4 linked regions of the Homo sapiens genome follow. The protein of the gene in region 4 purifies or fractionates together with the protein of the main gene of each other region. This does not show direct contact. Each region holds a gene or a part of one and is shown on either strand. Other genes may lie near its edges.

Region 1 (3,500 bases), on a different chromosome or scaffold from region 4:
TGGTTGTCGTGGGTGAAGCACGTGAGGCCTGGCATGCTGCACGTGTCGTTGTTCTGCAGGCGCTTGAGCAGCTTGCGGAGTTTCTTCTTGCGCTTCTGCTCCCGCAACAGCCACACCTTGTCCTTCTCTTGCAGGCCCTTCCTATGGGCGCAGAGGGCCACACACACCTTGGGCCTCTGAGGGATCAGTGACCCCATGTCTCTGCTCTTCCTGTCCACCTAAGGGCTTCGCTGAGGCTTCTCCAACAGAGAGCCATGGGCATAGCAATTCAGGGTCCCAAGTCCCAGTGCTGCTCCAAGGCAGAGCCGGGACCAGAACCTGGGTCTTGTCATTCTACTTTAACTCCCAAGGGGGCACAAGCTGGGGACAGAACCAGGCAGCTACTGGGACTCCTGTTGACACCCCTTTCCCCTCCTTCCTGTGTCCTGCCCTGCTTGGTGGAGTTGCGGTAACCCCATTTAGCCACAAGGGGGCGTCGGAGGCCCGCTCAGTGTTGATTGGGAAGTAAGGCCTCTTCGAGGGCTACCGTGGACTTCCCAGGGAAGGGCCTGGACTTCTTTCCTTTTCTTCTGAGTTTTAGCTTAAGGGAGGGCCACCTCCTCATGCAGGCCTCTGCATCTCTTCCCCAGGACCTCAAGCTGCTCTTACCTGAAAGGATGCAGACTGGAGCCTCTGTGCTTGAGGCGGCCTTTGTGCTGGGTGTGGTAGCTGTAACAGACCCCCCCAGCCCCAGGCTTCAGGAGTGGCTCAGAGGGCTCCGCTGGCAGGTGCAAGCTGTGATTTCTGGGACTCCCATGTGTTGCTGCTGCCCCACCCCTGTCCCTCCTTCTGGGGTGGTGGTGGGTAGGGCATGACCCTATCCTCAGGGCAGCAGGTGCCTGCCTGAGTGGCTTCTTTCTCCAAGCATGAGCCAGGACTCTGCCTGGACTTTTGCTAGACTTTAGCAGGTTGGGTTAATTGTAATTTAGCCACGACTAGAAGCTGGGCCTGGCTTTAGGTGCATCAGCCTCAGCATCCTTTTTCCTTTCTTTTTTGATGGTTAATTTTACATGTCAAAGCCTCAGCATCTTGAGGTTGGTTCCCTCACCACCCTGCCTACTCACACTTGGTCGGGGTCAACACAGGGAAGCCTGTGTTTTGCAACACTTTCTGGAAAGACAGCAGGGCTTCTACAGCTGTGCTGTCCAGTATGGTAGCCACTGGCCACAGGTGGCTACTTCAATTTGAATTAAGCAAAATAAAAAATTTGGCTCCTTAGTGACACTAGCCAAAATTTTAAGTATGCACCAGCCACGTGTGGTGTAGTGCAGATATAGCCCATTTCCGTCAGCACAGAATGTTCTATTAGAGCTGTTCTAGAGTTCAGTCCTTTGGGCCAGGGGACCCCTAAGCCGGGAACATGGACCTCAAACCACATGGGGGATTTCTGAAAGGGCAATCGGCAGAGGCACTTTTCCGGCCTGGAGCCGGCTCTGCGCAGCCAGCACGGGTCTCTTGCTAGCAGTACTGGAATCTGGGCGCCAGCCTGGCTGAGGAGCAGGTCCGTGTGCCACACTGGCTGACAACAGGGAGGTAAATTACGGATTTTTTTAATGCCATGAGGGGAGAAGATAAAGATAAAAATAAAAAATGAAAGGGGTCAATCACGAGAGGGGATGAACTGAACTGTCCTGTAGGAGAGTGGGGTCTTAGGGAGGTCCCTTTGCTACTGCCTCACCTGATTTTGTGACAGTCACATTCTTCTGGCCGCTTTTTCTTCAGGTGACCTCGGACTTCCCTCAGGTTCTTAATTTTGTTCTGCAGGGTTTCAATCTGAGGGAGGGGCAGAAGAGGAGGCCTTGAAACCTTCAAGGCTGGACAACAAAGACTTGGCCTGGTGACTGCCCCCACGCTGCCGTGTCTGTGCTCAGCAGCGGCAGCCTGCACTCCCCGGGCCCCAGGGCAAGCACCGGCATGTCTGGGTGGGGAGGAGGTACTTGTTCTGCCTGAAGGAAGCCCGCCTTCTCCTCCAGCCAGCCCTTGCAAGGGAACCGAGTCATTTTTCCGGCCTGGCCTGCGCAGGAACCCGCTGAGCCCACTGAGGCCTCCAGTGTCTCCCCTGGGTTTGATGAAAGGCCTCCTGTAGCGTAGACTTCTTGTAAGTCAAAAGGGGGACAACGTGGCTAAGCCATCGTCCCTCAGACGGCCTGGGCAGGAAGCTATCTGTCTCATGCTGGGACTGACACCTATCCCCGCGTTGAGGAATCTGTGGGGACCTCACTTCACCTCTCCAGCCTCTTCCCTGGGTCTGGCCTCACTGCCCTCCCACTGTGAACCGGGGGTCCTGCCAGGCCCGTGGTGGCCGAGAGCATGCTCCTCTCCCGCTCTCCACTCACCTCGTGGTCGATGTGCAGCTTGTGGTCTTTCCAGGCCTGCAGGGACTTGTACAGGTCCAGGTCACACTGGACTGTGTCGTTCTCTAGGATGTAGCACCTGCTTGAGAGAAGGGATCACGTGTGGCTCGGAGGTGGTGGAGGGGGAGCAGCCCAGGTGCCCAAGAGGTGTGGGAAGCCCTTGCCGAGGTCTGTCCTGTCCCCTTCACCCTCGACTTCCACCTGGACACTCACCGATGTGTCACTTTAATGGGGTTGGCGGCTGAATAGTCGGGAAGGCCTCCAGTGCCACTGAAGTCCCCACCATCCTTGTCATCTTGGTCCTCAGGGGCCCAAGAGGTGTGGGAAGCCCTTTGCCGAGGTCTGTCCTGTCCCCTTCACCCTCGACTTCCACCTGGACACTCACCGATGTGTCACTTTAATGGGGTTGGCGGCTGAGTAGTCGGGAAGGCCTCCAGTGCCACTGAAGTCCCCACCATCCTTGTCATCTTGGTCCTCAGGGGCCCCTGGCCAGTGCCGCTTGGTGAGGTTTCGGGGCTGGGCGGCATCACCCAGGCCTACGTGGTACACCCTGCCGTCCACCTCGATGGCCACTGAGCGGATGGAGCGACTGCGGACATAGCTGGCCTTGTACTCTGTGGGCATTAGAGGAGTGGCAGAGTTAGGGAGGCAGGAAAGGCTGGCCAGGCTCCCAGGGCAGTGGGTCCTTCATCAAGATAGGGCCGGGCTTCCAAGCATGAGGCTCAGCTTTGCCTGCGACTCGAGGGGTCGTGGAATCTACCCGCCTGCTCGCAGATCCTGGACCGCAGGGGAGGGCCTCGAGGTGATCACACCGGCAAGACGGAAGTCCTGGAGCCAAGAAGCCACTGACTCAAGAGGATTTCAAGCGAGAGCTGCTTGCGGGTAAACAAATGGCGGTACATCATCTGTACAACGGAATATGCGACCAGAACCAGGAGCGAGGTTCTGATTCACGCTAGAGCGTGGATGAATGTCAAAAGCAGGCGGAGTGAAACCAGCCAGACACAAAGCGGGCTCGTATTGTTACATTCTATTTATAGGAACTACCCAGAATAGGTAAATCTATAGCGGCAGAAAGAAGATTGGTGATTGCCAGGGGCTGGGGGA
Region 2 (3,500 bases), about 32 Mb from region 4:
TGTGGGAGCCATAATCTTCCACTGGGACCACTTCTCACCCTCCATTCCTCTGTTCTTCCCAGCTCACTTCCCCCAGCATGGTAACAGAGACAGCTGACATCTTACTAAGAAGCTCTATCTTGCTTCTGTACAAAACACGCATCTTTTAGCGGTGTTTAGCTCTTCTGATAGACACAGTGAAGGTCACATTTTGTTTCTTCTTTCCTTAGGCTGGGTCCTTAAACAATGAGAGCGGACTGGTCAGCTGCTACTTTGGGCAGCTTCTCTCCAAATTAGACAGGATCAAGACTGATTACACACTGAGTATTGCCAACAGGCTTTATGGAGAGCAGGAATTCCCAATCTGTCAGGTGAGTTGCACACGAATGGTGACTAAAGCTACCATGTAGCATACTATTTAAAAATCAGGGAGTAGCTGGGTTACTCACCTGCCATCTAGAACACAAACCTCTTTGACAGGATGATGCGCTGTGGACTGGTGAGGTGTCCAGGACCTCCCTCTTTCAGTCCCACAGTTTTCTTCTCTTCCCAGTGTTCAATGTGAGCAGTTTACGGGGCCCATTGTGGGTGGAATAGAGTGGGTGGGAAAAGGTTGTGTGAGTAATGGAGGCTTTGGAGCACGTGTGGGCTTGGTAATGGCATCCTCTCCTGACTGTCTTCCCCAGTCAATGTGCCTGGTTGCTGCACTTCTCTCTCCCTTATCTGTTAGGTGCCCCCAAGACATTTCTGTGGAATCTCCTTTTGTGCCAGGATCAGGCTACCCCCGCAATGCAATTGTGTTCACTATGCTCTTTTGAGAGTGGGGTAGCAGGAGGAGACTGCGTTTTGGCATTTGGAGCTGAAAGGCACAGGACTTGTGTCTGTGGCTAAACAGCTTCGTACCTAGAGCAAGCTGTGTCTCCATCTGGGCTTCAGTTTCCTTTTGAATCACTAGAAGGAGCCATGTGCTAAATAATAAATGTGGGGGATATGACCAATGGCAAAGACGTGACATGGTTGGTTAGAGCAGGACTAGCCAGGGGTTGGGTGGCCTCCTTTGGCCAAAATAAGTGTGTTTCCTTGCAATGAAAGTAAGATTTTTCATGCTGGATTTTTAAAAACTAGCCTTTTGATGAGCTATAAATTCATATATTAAACAATTCACCTGTTAAAAGTACACAAACCAATGGGTTTGGTATATTACATTACTGATTTTTTAAAATTATAGTAAAATACATATAAAATTTACCATTTATGTGTACATTTCAGTAGCATTACTTACATTCACAATGTTGTGTAACCATCACCTTATCTATTTCTAAAACTTTTTTTTTCATCACTCTAAACAGAAACTCTGCAACCATTAAGCGGGAGTTTAATTCTTAAAAACAGAAGCATTTTCCAGCCAAGTCTCTCAAGTTACTTGATACTTACCTTGTGATGGCTCCACAGATGGTTTGTTGAAATAAAAGGATATCCAGTAGGAAAGGCTTGTCCCGTTGTAACTATAGACTGTTCATGAATAATATTTGATATCCTCATTTTTCACTAAAAAAACTGAAATGTCTCTGGCTAGTTTAAGACTGGGGATGGCTAGAAACTGTCAGGCCTGTCCATGAAATGTGAAATGACCAGGCTCATCTTTCTTGGGAGACTTCTCAGGAGAGTCTCACTCCTAACTACGAGCATCACTGCCTGACTTTATTGCATTATTTCCCTTTTATTCCAATGGAACAGGAATACTTAGATGGTGTGATTCAATTTTACCACACGACGATTGAAAGTGTTGATTTCCAAAAAAACCCTGAAAAATCCAGACAAGAGATTAACTTCTGGGTTGAATGTCAATCCCAAGGTAAGAAAGCCCAAAAGCACGGGAGCTGGTATTGGTTTCCATTTAAAAGAAAATTGGTCTGCCTAGCTTTGCAGACTGCTGGTCTACTGGGGGCCAGAGGTTCACATATGTGGACTGTGTTCAAAGCATGGTTTGCAGAATGAGATACCATCTCACACCAGTCAGAATGACTATTATTAAAAAGTTAAAAAACGACAGATTCTGTCAAGGCTTCAGATAAAGGGGAACACTTATACACTATTGGTGGGAATGTAAATTAGCCATTGTGGAAAGTAGTTTGGAAATTTCTCAGAGTTAAAACAGAGCTGTCATTCGACCCAGCAATCCCATTACTGAGTATATATCCAAAGAAATAGAGATCATTCTACCAAAAAGACATATGCACTCATATGTTCATCACCACACTATTCACAATAGCAAAGACATGGAATTAACCTAAGTGTCCATCAATAGTGGGTTGGATAAAGAAAATGTGGTACATATACACCATGGAATACTACACAGCCATCAAAAAGAATGAAATCATGTCCTTTGCAGTAACATGATGGAAATGGAGGCCATAATCCTATGAATTAACACAGGAACAGAAAGGCAAACATTGTTCTCACTTATAAGTGGGAGCTAAACATTGAGGACACACAGACATAAATATGGCAAGGAACAATGAACCCTCCAGATACTAACTTGGGTCAGGGAGGGAGAGAGGAATGGGTTGAAAAACTACCTATAGGGTACTATGCCTACTATCTGTGAGCAACATGCCATGTAACAAACCTGCACATGTACTTCCTGTATCTAAAATAAAAGCTGAAATTTAAAAAAAAACAAAACAAAAAAGCATGGTCTGAACAGCATCAAACAGTTAAACTGCTTAGATATTGCTGTTATTTATTATTGCAGTTTTGGTCTCTGGTCTTGCTGGCTCTGGGCGGGAAAGGAGGACACCAGCCTCGTTAGTGCTGATCTTCTAGGTGGGGCTTAGAGAATGCTCCCTTCTACCGGTGCCCGTGTGAATTTGAAAAACAGAATAAACTCTTCCCTCCAGGACCAAAGTTAGTGACCTGAAGGGTCAGGTCAGGCTGCTGGACATAGACTAGGCCCCTTTTTGATCATCGTGTGGGGCTGGCGAAGGTGTTCGTGTACAGTGAAAAGTTTGGAGTGCATGAGAGAGCACAGGTAGTGCATTATGTCTCCTGCCTTCAGAGTGAGACCATGACCCCAGGCATTTGCATACATTTTGAGTGGCTGGAGGCTGGGAAATGACAGTTGACTTATTTTAGGCTGTCCTTGGTACCAGAGTGACAGTTTCGGTTCCTCCCTTCCATTTGGTGGCTTTCTCTCCCTGTCTCCTCTTTTTCTCACACTGACTTAGGGATGGGATACCCCTGCCTGCCTTTCCTTGGGAGAAGTCTCTAAATTCCAAAATTATTGCTTTTTCCTTCTTTCATAGGCCATAAAAATGACCATTCTTTCAAGGCTCTACTCAGCTGTCAAAAGGAAAGCAATTCATTAATGAAGCTCATATTAAGGCCTGGATATGTACTTTCCCCTTAGTGAGTTAACTCCTCCAGAAAATTTGAAATGTAGATGATGTCAACCTAATCTATTATTATGGGATTTAAATAGAGCTCTTCTTGAGATGGAAGATCTTTTCTTCTTAAGACAT
Region 3 (3,500 bases), on a different chromosome or scaffold from region 4:
CCCACAAATGTAAATCTCTCTTCAGTTGTTCATTGCCTCCCACCCCCATGGTCCCTCCAGCAGGATGTCTCAGTTCCTACTCTTCTTAGGCCAGCTGTCCCCAACCTTTTTGGTACCTTTGTGGAAGGCAATTTTTCCACAGATGGGGTGGAGGGGATAGTTTTGGGATGAAGCTGTTCCACCTCAGATCATCAGGCATTATTTTCTCATAAGGAGCACGCAACCTTGATCCTTTGCATGCAGTTCACAATAGGGTTCCCACTCCTATGAGAATCTAATGCTGCCGCTAATCTGACAGGAGGCGGAGCTCAGGCCATAATGCTCACTGGCCCACTGCTCCCCTCCTGCTGTGCAGCCCGATTCCTAACAGGCCATGGATGGGTACTGGTCTGCAGCCCAGGGGTTGGGAACACCTGTCTTAGGAGATTGCAGATCTCTGGTAAGAAAATGCCCCAGCTGACCCTATCTCTTGCTGGATCTCATTCCTCCCTAGACTCTATTCTCCTCTCTTCAGCCAGTCCTTCCTCTCTTAGCCAGGTGACTTCATTTCTTGCATCCTCAATGCCTTGTCCCATACTTCCTTCTTCCTTCAAAACATACTTAGACAATAAATGTCCACAAGTCACATCTTACTGGCCCTACTGTCCTTTCATGTTACTATTCAAACTCTCCTTCCTTACTCTCTAAATCTCCCCCAAATGTAATTCATCCACTTTGCCATCAATATCTTTCTATCTATTTTCTATTAAATTAGGCACAGTCCTATTGTTTCTGTAGAATGACTACAGATTAGGGGAAAAGCCTGAGTGTTGGGTGCCTCATGGCTCAAATCCTCAGATCTCAGAGAATAAACACCTCACCAAGATTCATGCTCAGTAGCAATGAGAAATGCTTGAAGAACTCTGGGTTAAATGCATTATACCAGGTGCTTCTCCCTGGTAGCCTCCTCCCCGGCTGGAGACCAAGCGACAAACCTCCACTGTATTCCTTGAGCTCCCGTCACCATCACGCGTGGCAGACTGAGAAAGGTGAAGGCCAACTGCATTCAGCAGGAGATGTGTCCGTTCACCGCCAGTCTCCCACCACCGTTCCCAGCTGGCCTGCATCCTCCTAGTGCCCATCCTGGGGAGTCTTTCAGCACCAAGCTACCTTCTGAGACTTAAGTTTCACTGACAAGCTCCCCTACTCTGCCCCTTTCCCTGCTCCTCAGCTCAAATCTCATCACTCAGGTCCATGTCATCTAACATTAAACCATGCAAATCTATTTTACTGGGAAGAGGGAGGGAGGCTGCAAGTTACAAGTAGAGTGAACCAGAAATCAAGGTCCACAGTCTGACAGGTGCCAGAACACTTCAAGAAACAAACCAGATCTTTTAAATCCCCTCTCTCATGGAAAATTCTGCATTTGTGGATTACACAGATACGATGGAAAAGTTAAAGATTTGGATATATTTCTAGGACAGATAGAAATAAAAACTTAGGGCCAGGCATGGGGGCTCACCCCTGTAATCCCAGCACTTTGGGAGACCAAGGTGGGTGGATCACCTGAGGCCAGGAGTTTGAGACCAGCCTGGCAAACATGGTGAAACTCCATCTCTCCAAAAATATAAAAAATTAGCTGGGAGTGGTGGCAGATGCCTGTAGTCCCAGCTACTCATGAGGCTGAGGCAGGAGAATTGCTTAAACCCAGGAGGGAGAGGTTGTAGTGAGCTGAGATTGTGCCACTACACTCCAGCCTAGGTGACAGAGCAAGACTCCATGAAAGAGAGAGAGAAGAAAGAAAGAAAAGAAAGAAGAAAGAAAGAAAGAAAGAAAGAAAGAAAGAAAGAAAGAAAGAAAGAAAGAAGAAAGAGAGAGAGAGGAAGGAAGGAAAAGGAAAGGAAAGGAAGGAAGGAAAAGGAAAGGAAAGGAAGAAAAAAGGAAGAAAGAAAGAAGAAAGAAAGAGAGAGAGAAAGAAAGAAAAAGAAAGAAAGAGAAAGAAAGAAAGAGAAAGAAAGAAAAGAAAAGAAAGGCTGGTTGGCTTAGGATACGTGCTTAAAAAGAAACATGACTGAAAAGCAGAAGGAACACAGATCAGATATATAAGTTATCATGCAAGGACTTTAAAATAACTATGTTGAATAATTTTTCAACTTTAAGCAGTCATGCTCAACTCATAGCCTTACATTCTCCATTCATAAAATGAGGTTTAAATGGATACTTTGGGGGTTAGTGTAGAGATTAACTCTTTCAAACTCAGCTCCTAACTTGACTGGTGCCAAGTACTGGCCATCCCTCCTTTGGAATTTTGAAAGGCTTTGGAAAGGGACCCTAAGACAATAACCTGTTTCCTTACTCTACTTCTCTGTGCATCCTTTCTCCGCTCTCCTGCCCCTAGCTCTTCCCACTTCTGGTTTGTCCTCACTATTTGTCTTCTCCCTTTCTCCACTTTGAAATTTCATTTCCATCTCAACAGAACAATCACACTTTTCCCGTCTATTCTCAAGGTTACAGGAGAACTGAGTGGTGGTCCGTGGAGTGTTTGGCCTTTCAGAAATGGTCTGAGAACTCACAGTTTGCATATGTCTACATCTTTGAAAACAGTTCTGGTACTCAAACTGAGGCATCAGTAGTAAAGGTTCAAAACATCTGCCCAGGGAGGATTGTTTGAGTCCGGGAATTCGAGGCTGCAGTGAACTATGATCACGCCACTGCACTCCAGCCTGGGTGAGGGGGAGATTCTGTCTCTTAAATTTAAAAAAACAAAAAACAAAAAAAACCTGCCCACTGATAGGAAGGACTGCCTTGGGAGAATCCTAGATGGACTGGAGGCCTGATTGAAGTTGTATGGACATGCAATGCTTTCATGAAGGGCATAAAAGCAAGTTCTCAATAAACAAGGTACATTCAACACAGAGAGTTATATCCTTTTTCCTCCAAAAGACAGAAAAGAATTGGGGTTGAAGGACAAATCCACAGACATAAAGACAACAGGAGATAGGCAAGTACCACCTCAGAAATACCAATAAAATTTTGGAAGTTGGAAAACAGATGAACAATGGAAAATGCTGAGCAGTCTAAACAGAAGCTAAGCCCATAGAGGGGAAAGTCTAAGCCAGAAGCAAGCAGATTCACACTGCAGAACGTCACAATGGCGCAGGCATGAGCAACACCAAAAAGTCGTAGCCAGGAGTAAGGTCTCAGACCAAAAGCAAGAGGACTGATCTGTATGAAGGACAGTGAGACCTCCCATAGTTCCTTCTCCCTCACTGTCCTCCACCCCGGCAGAAGACGAGCTTTACACTTAGCAGGAACTGAGTCAAGAGCTCATAGTAGACTCTTGCATATCAGGCCCAGCTGAGAGTGGGAATGAAGCACTGTACAGAAAGTTGATGGGCTCAGTAAAAGTTTACATATTGAATTTGGGACTGTCTCCCTTCTCATGCTGGGTTCGGGAATGCTGACATTTAAACCCAACCCATATCCCTCCATGGTAGACAGAATGATGGCCCTCCAAAGAT
Region 4 (3,500 bases):
AAGCCTCCAAGAAATATGGGACTATGTGAAAAGACCAAATCTACGTCTGATTGGTGTACCTAAAAGTGATGGGGAGAATGGAACCAAGTTGGAAAACACTCTGTAGGATATTATCCAGGAGAACTTCCCCAATCTAGCAAGGCAGGCCAACGTTCAGATTCAGAAAATACAGAGAATGCCACAAAGATACTCCTCGAGAAGAGCAACTCCAAGACACATAATTGTCAGATTCACCAAAGTTGAAATGAAGGAAAAAATGTTAAGGGCAGCCAGAGAGAAAGGTCGGGTTACCCTCAAAGGGAAGCCCATCAGACTAACAGCAGATCTCTCAGCAGAAACCCTACAAGCCAGAAGAGAGTGGGGGCCAATATTCAACATTCTTAAAGGAAAGAATTTTCAACCCAGAATTTCATATCCAGCCAAACTAAGCTTCATAAGTGAAGGAGAAATAAAATCCTTTACAGACAAGCAAATGCTGAGAGATTTTGTCACCACCAGGCCTGCCTTACAAGAGCTCCTGAAGGAAGCACTAAACATGGAAAGGAACAACCGGTACCAGCTGCTGCAAAATCATGCCAAAATGTAAAGACCATCGAGACTAGGAAGAAACTGCATCAACTAACGAGCAAAATAACCAGCTAACATCATCATGACAGGATCAAATTCACACATAGCAATATTAACTTTAAATGTAAATGGACTAAATGCTCCAATTAAAAGACACAGACTGGCAAATTGGATAAAGAGTCAAGACCCATCAGTGTGCTGTATTCAGGAAACCCATCTCACGTGCAGAGACACACATAGGCTCAAAATAAAAGGGTGGAGGAAGATCTACCCAGCCAATGGAAAACAAAAAAAGGCAGGGGTTGCAATCCTAGTCTCTGATAAAACAGACTTTAAACCAACAAAGATCAAAAGAGACAAAGAAGGCCATTACATAATGGTAAAGGGATCAATTCAACAAGAAGAGCTAACTATCCTAAATATATATGCACCCAATACAGGAGCACCAAGATTCATAAAGCAAATCCTGAGTGACCTACAAAGAGACTTAGACTCCCACACATTAATAATGGGAGACTTTAACACCCCACTGTCAACATTAGACAGATCAACGAGACAGAAAGTCAACAAGGATACCCAGGAATTGAACTCAGCTCTGCACCAGGCGGACCTAATAGACATCTACAGAACTCTCCACCCCAAATCAACAGAATATACATTTTTTTCAGCACCACACCACACCTATTCCAAAATTGACCACATACTGGGAAGTAAAGCTCTCCTCAGCAAATGTAAAAGAACGGAAATTATAACAAACTATCTCTCAGACCACAGTGCAATCAAACTAGAACTCAGGATTAAGAATCTCACTTAAAACCGCTCAACTACATGGAAACTGAACAACCTGCTCCTGAATGACTACTGGGTACATAACGAAATGAAGGCAGAAATAAAGATGTTCTTTGAAACCAACGAGAACAAAGACACAACATACCAGAATCTCTGGGACGCATTCAAAGCAGTGTGTAGAGGGAAATTTATAGCACTAAATGCCCACAAGAGAAAGCAGGAAAGATCCCAAATTGACACCCTAACATCACAATTAAAAGAACTAGAAAAGCAAGAGCAAACACATTCAAAAGCTAGCAGAAGGCAAGAAATAACTAAGATCAGAGCAGAACTGAAGGAAATAGAGACACAAAAAACCCTTCAAAAAATTAATGAATCCAGGAACTGGTTTTTTGAAAGGGTCAACAAAATTGATAGACTGCTAGCAAGACTAATAAAGAAAAAAAGAGAGAAGAATCAAATAGATGCAATAAAAAATGATAAAGGGGATATCACCACTGATCCCACAGAAATACAAACTACCATCAGAGAATACTACAAACACCTCTACGCAAATAAACTAGAAAATCTAGAAGAAATGGATAAATTCTTGGACACATACACTCTCCCAAGACTAAACCAGGTAGAAGTTGAATCTCTGAATAGACCAATAACAGGAGCTGAAATTGTGGCAATAATCAATAGCTTACCAATCAAAAAGAGTCCAGGACCAGATGGATTCACAGCCGAATTCTACCAGAGGTACAAGGAGGAACTGGTACCATTCCTTCTGAAACTATTCCAATCAATAGAAAAAGAGAGAATCCTCCCTAACTCATTTTATGAGGCCAGCATCATTCTGATACCAAAGCCAGGCAGAGACACAACAAAAAAAGAGAATTTTAGACCAATATCCTTGATGAACATTGATGCAAAAATCCTCAATAAAATACTGGCAAAACGAATCCAGCAGCACATCAAAAAGCTTATCCACCATGATCAAGTGGGCTTCATCCCTGGGATGCAAGGCTGGTTCAATATACGCAAATCAATAAATGTAATCCAGCATATAAATAGAGCCAAAGACAAAAACCACATGATTATCTCAATAGATGCAGAAAAAGCCTTTGACAAAATTCAACAACCCTTCATGCTAAAAACTCTCAATAAATTAGGTATTGATGGGACGTATTTCAAAATAATAAGAGCTATCTATGACAAACCCACAGCCAGTATCATACTGAATGGGCAAAAACTGGAAGCATTCCCTTTGAAAACTGGCACAAGACAGGGATGCCCTCTCTCACCACTCCTATTCAACATAGTGTTGGAAGTTCTGGCCAGGGCAATTAGGCAGGAGAAGGAAATAAAGGGTATTCAATTAGGAAAAGAGGAAGTCAAATTGTCCCTGTTTGCAGACGACATGATTGTATATCTAGAAAACCCCATTGTCTCAGCCCAAAATCTCCTTAAGCTGATAAGCAACTTCAGCAAAGTCTCAGGATACAAAATCAATGTATAAAAATCACAAGCATTCTTATACACCAACAACAGACAAACAGAGAGACAAATCATGAGTGAACTCCCATTCACAATTGCTTCAAAGAGAATAAAATACCTAGGAATCCAACTTACAAGGGATGTGAAGGACCTCTTCAAGGAGAACTACAAACCACTGCTCAAGGAAATAAAAGAGGACACAAACAAATGGAAGAACATTCCATGCTCATGGGTAGGAAGAATCAATATCGTGAAAATGGCCATACTGCCCAAGGTAATTTACAGATTCAATGCCATCCCCATCAAGCTACCAATGACTTTCTTCACAGAATTGGAAAAAACTACTTTAAAGTTCATATGGAACCAAAAAAGGAGCCCGCATCGCCACGTCAATCCTAAGCCAAAAGAACAAAGCTGGAGGCATCACACTACCTGACTTCAAACTATACTATAAGGCTACAGTAACCAAAACAGCATGGTACTGGTACCAAAACAGAGATATAGATCAATGGAACAGAACAGAGCCCTCAGAAATAACACCGCATATCTACAACTATCTGATCTTTGACAAACCTGAGAAAAACAAGCAATGGGGAAAGGATTCCCTATTTAATAAATGGTGCTGGGAAAACTGGCTAGCCATATGTAGAAAGGTGAAACTGGAT

Evidence for each region. Proteins that work in one complex are often made in the same cells at the same time.
Region 1: the proteins of DSG1 (region 4) and SULF2 purify together in Homo sapiens (co-immunoprecipitation; one large-scale study listed by IntAct). This does not show direct contact.
Region 2: the proteins of DSG1 (region 4) and SERPINB12 purify together in Homo sapiens (affinity purification with mass spectrometry, with the first as the bait; one large-scale study listed by BioGRID). This does not show direct contact.
Region 3: the proteins of DSG1 (region 4) and CSTA purify together in Homo sapiens (affinity purification with mass spectrometry, with the first as the bait; one large-scale study listed by BioGRID). This does not show direct contact.

Annotation. Positions count from the first base shown.
Region 1 is NC_000020.11:47,663,482-47,666,981, forward strand, and holds part of SULF2 (extracellular sulfatase Sulf-2 isoform a precursor), read right to left. Parts: intron 3,008-3,500; coding exon 2,779-3,007; intron 2,677-2,778; coding exon of another isoform or gene 2,607-2,676; intron 2,476-2,606; coding exon of another isoform or gene 2,473-2,475; coding exon 2,376-2,472; intron 1,813-2,375; coding exon 1,718-1,812; intron 709-1,717; coding exon 649-708; intron 142-648; coding exon 1-141. UniProt on the Homo sapiens protein: Exhibits arylsulfatase activity and highly specific endoglucosamine-6-sulfatase activity. It can remove sulfate from the C-6 position of glucosamine within specific subregions of intact heparin.
Region 2 is NC_000018.10:63,559,369-63,562,868, forward strand, and holds part of SERPINB12 (serpin B12), read left to right. Parts: intron 1-209; coding exon 210-350; intron 351-1,716; coding exon 1,717-1,834; intron 1,835-3,500. UniProt on the Homo sapiens protein: Inhibits trypsin and plasmin, but not thrombin, coagulation factor Xa, or urokinase-type plasminogen activator. May play a role in cell differentiation.
Region 3 is NC_000003.12:122,331,748-122,335,247, forward strand, and holds part of CSTA (cystatin-A), read left to right. Parts: intron 1-3,500. UniProt on the Homo sapiens protein: This is an intracellular thiol proteinase inhibitor. Has an important role in desmosome-mediated cell-cell adhesion in the lower levels of the epidermis.
Region 4 is NC_000018.10:31,349,160-31,352,659, reverse strand, and holds part of DSG1 (desmoglein-1 preproprotein), read right to left. Parts: intron 1-3,500. UniProt on the Homo sapiens protein: Component of intercellular desmosome junctions. Involved in the interaction of plaque proteins and intermediate filaments mediating cell-cell adhesion.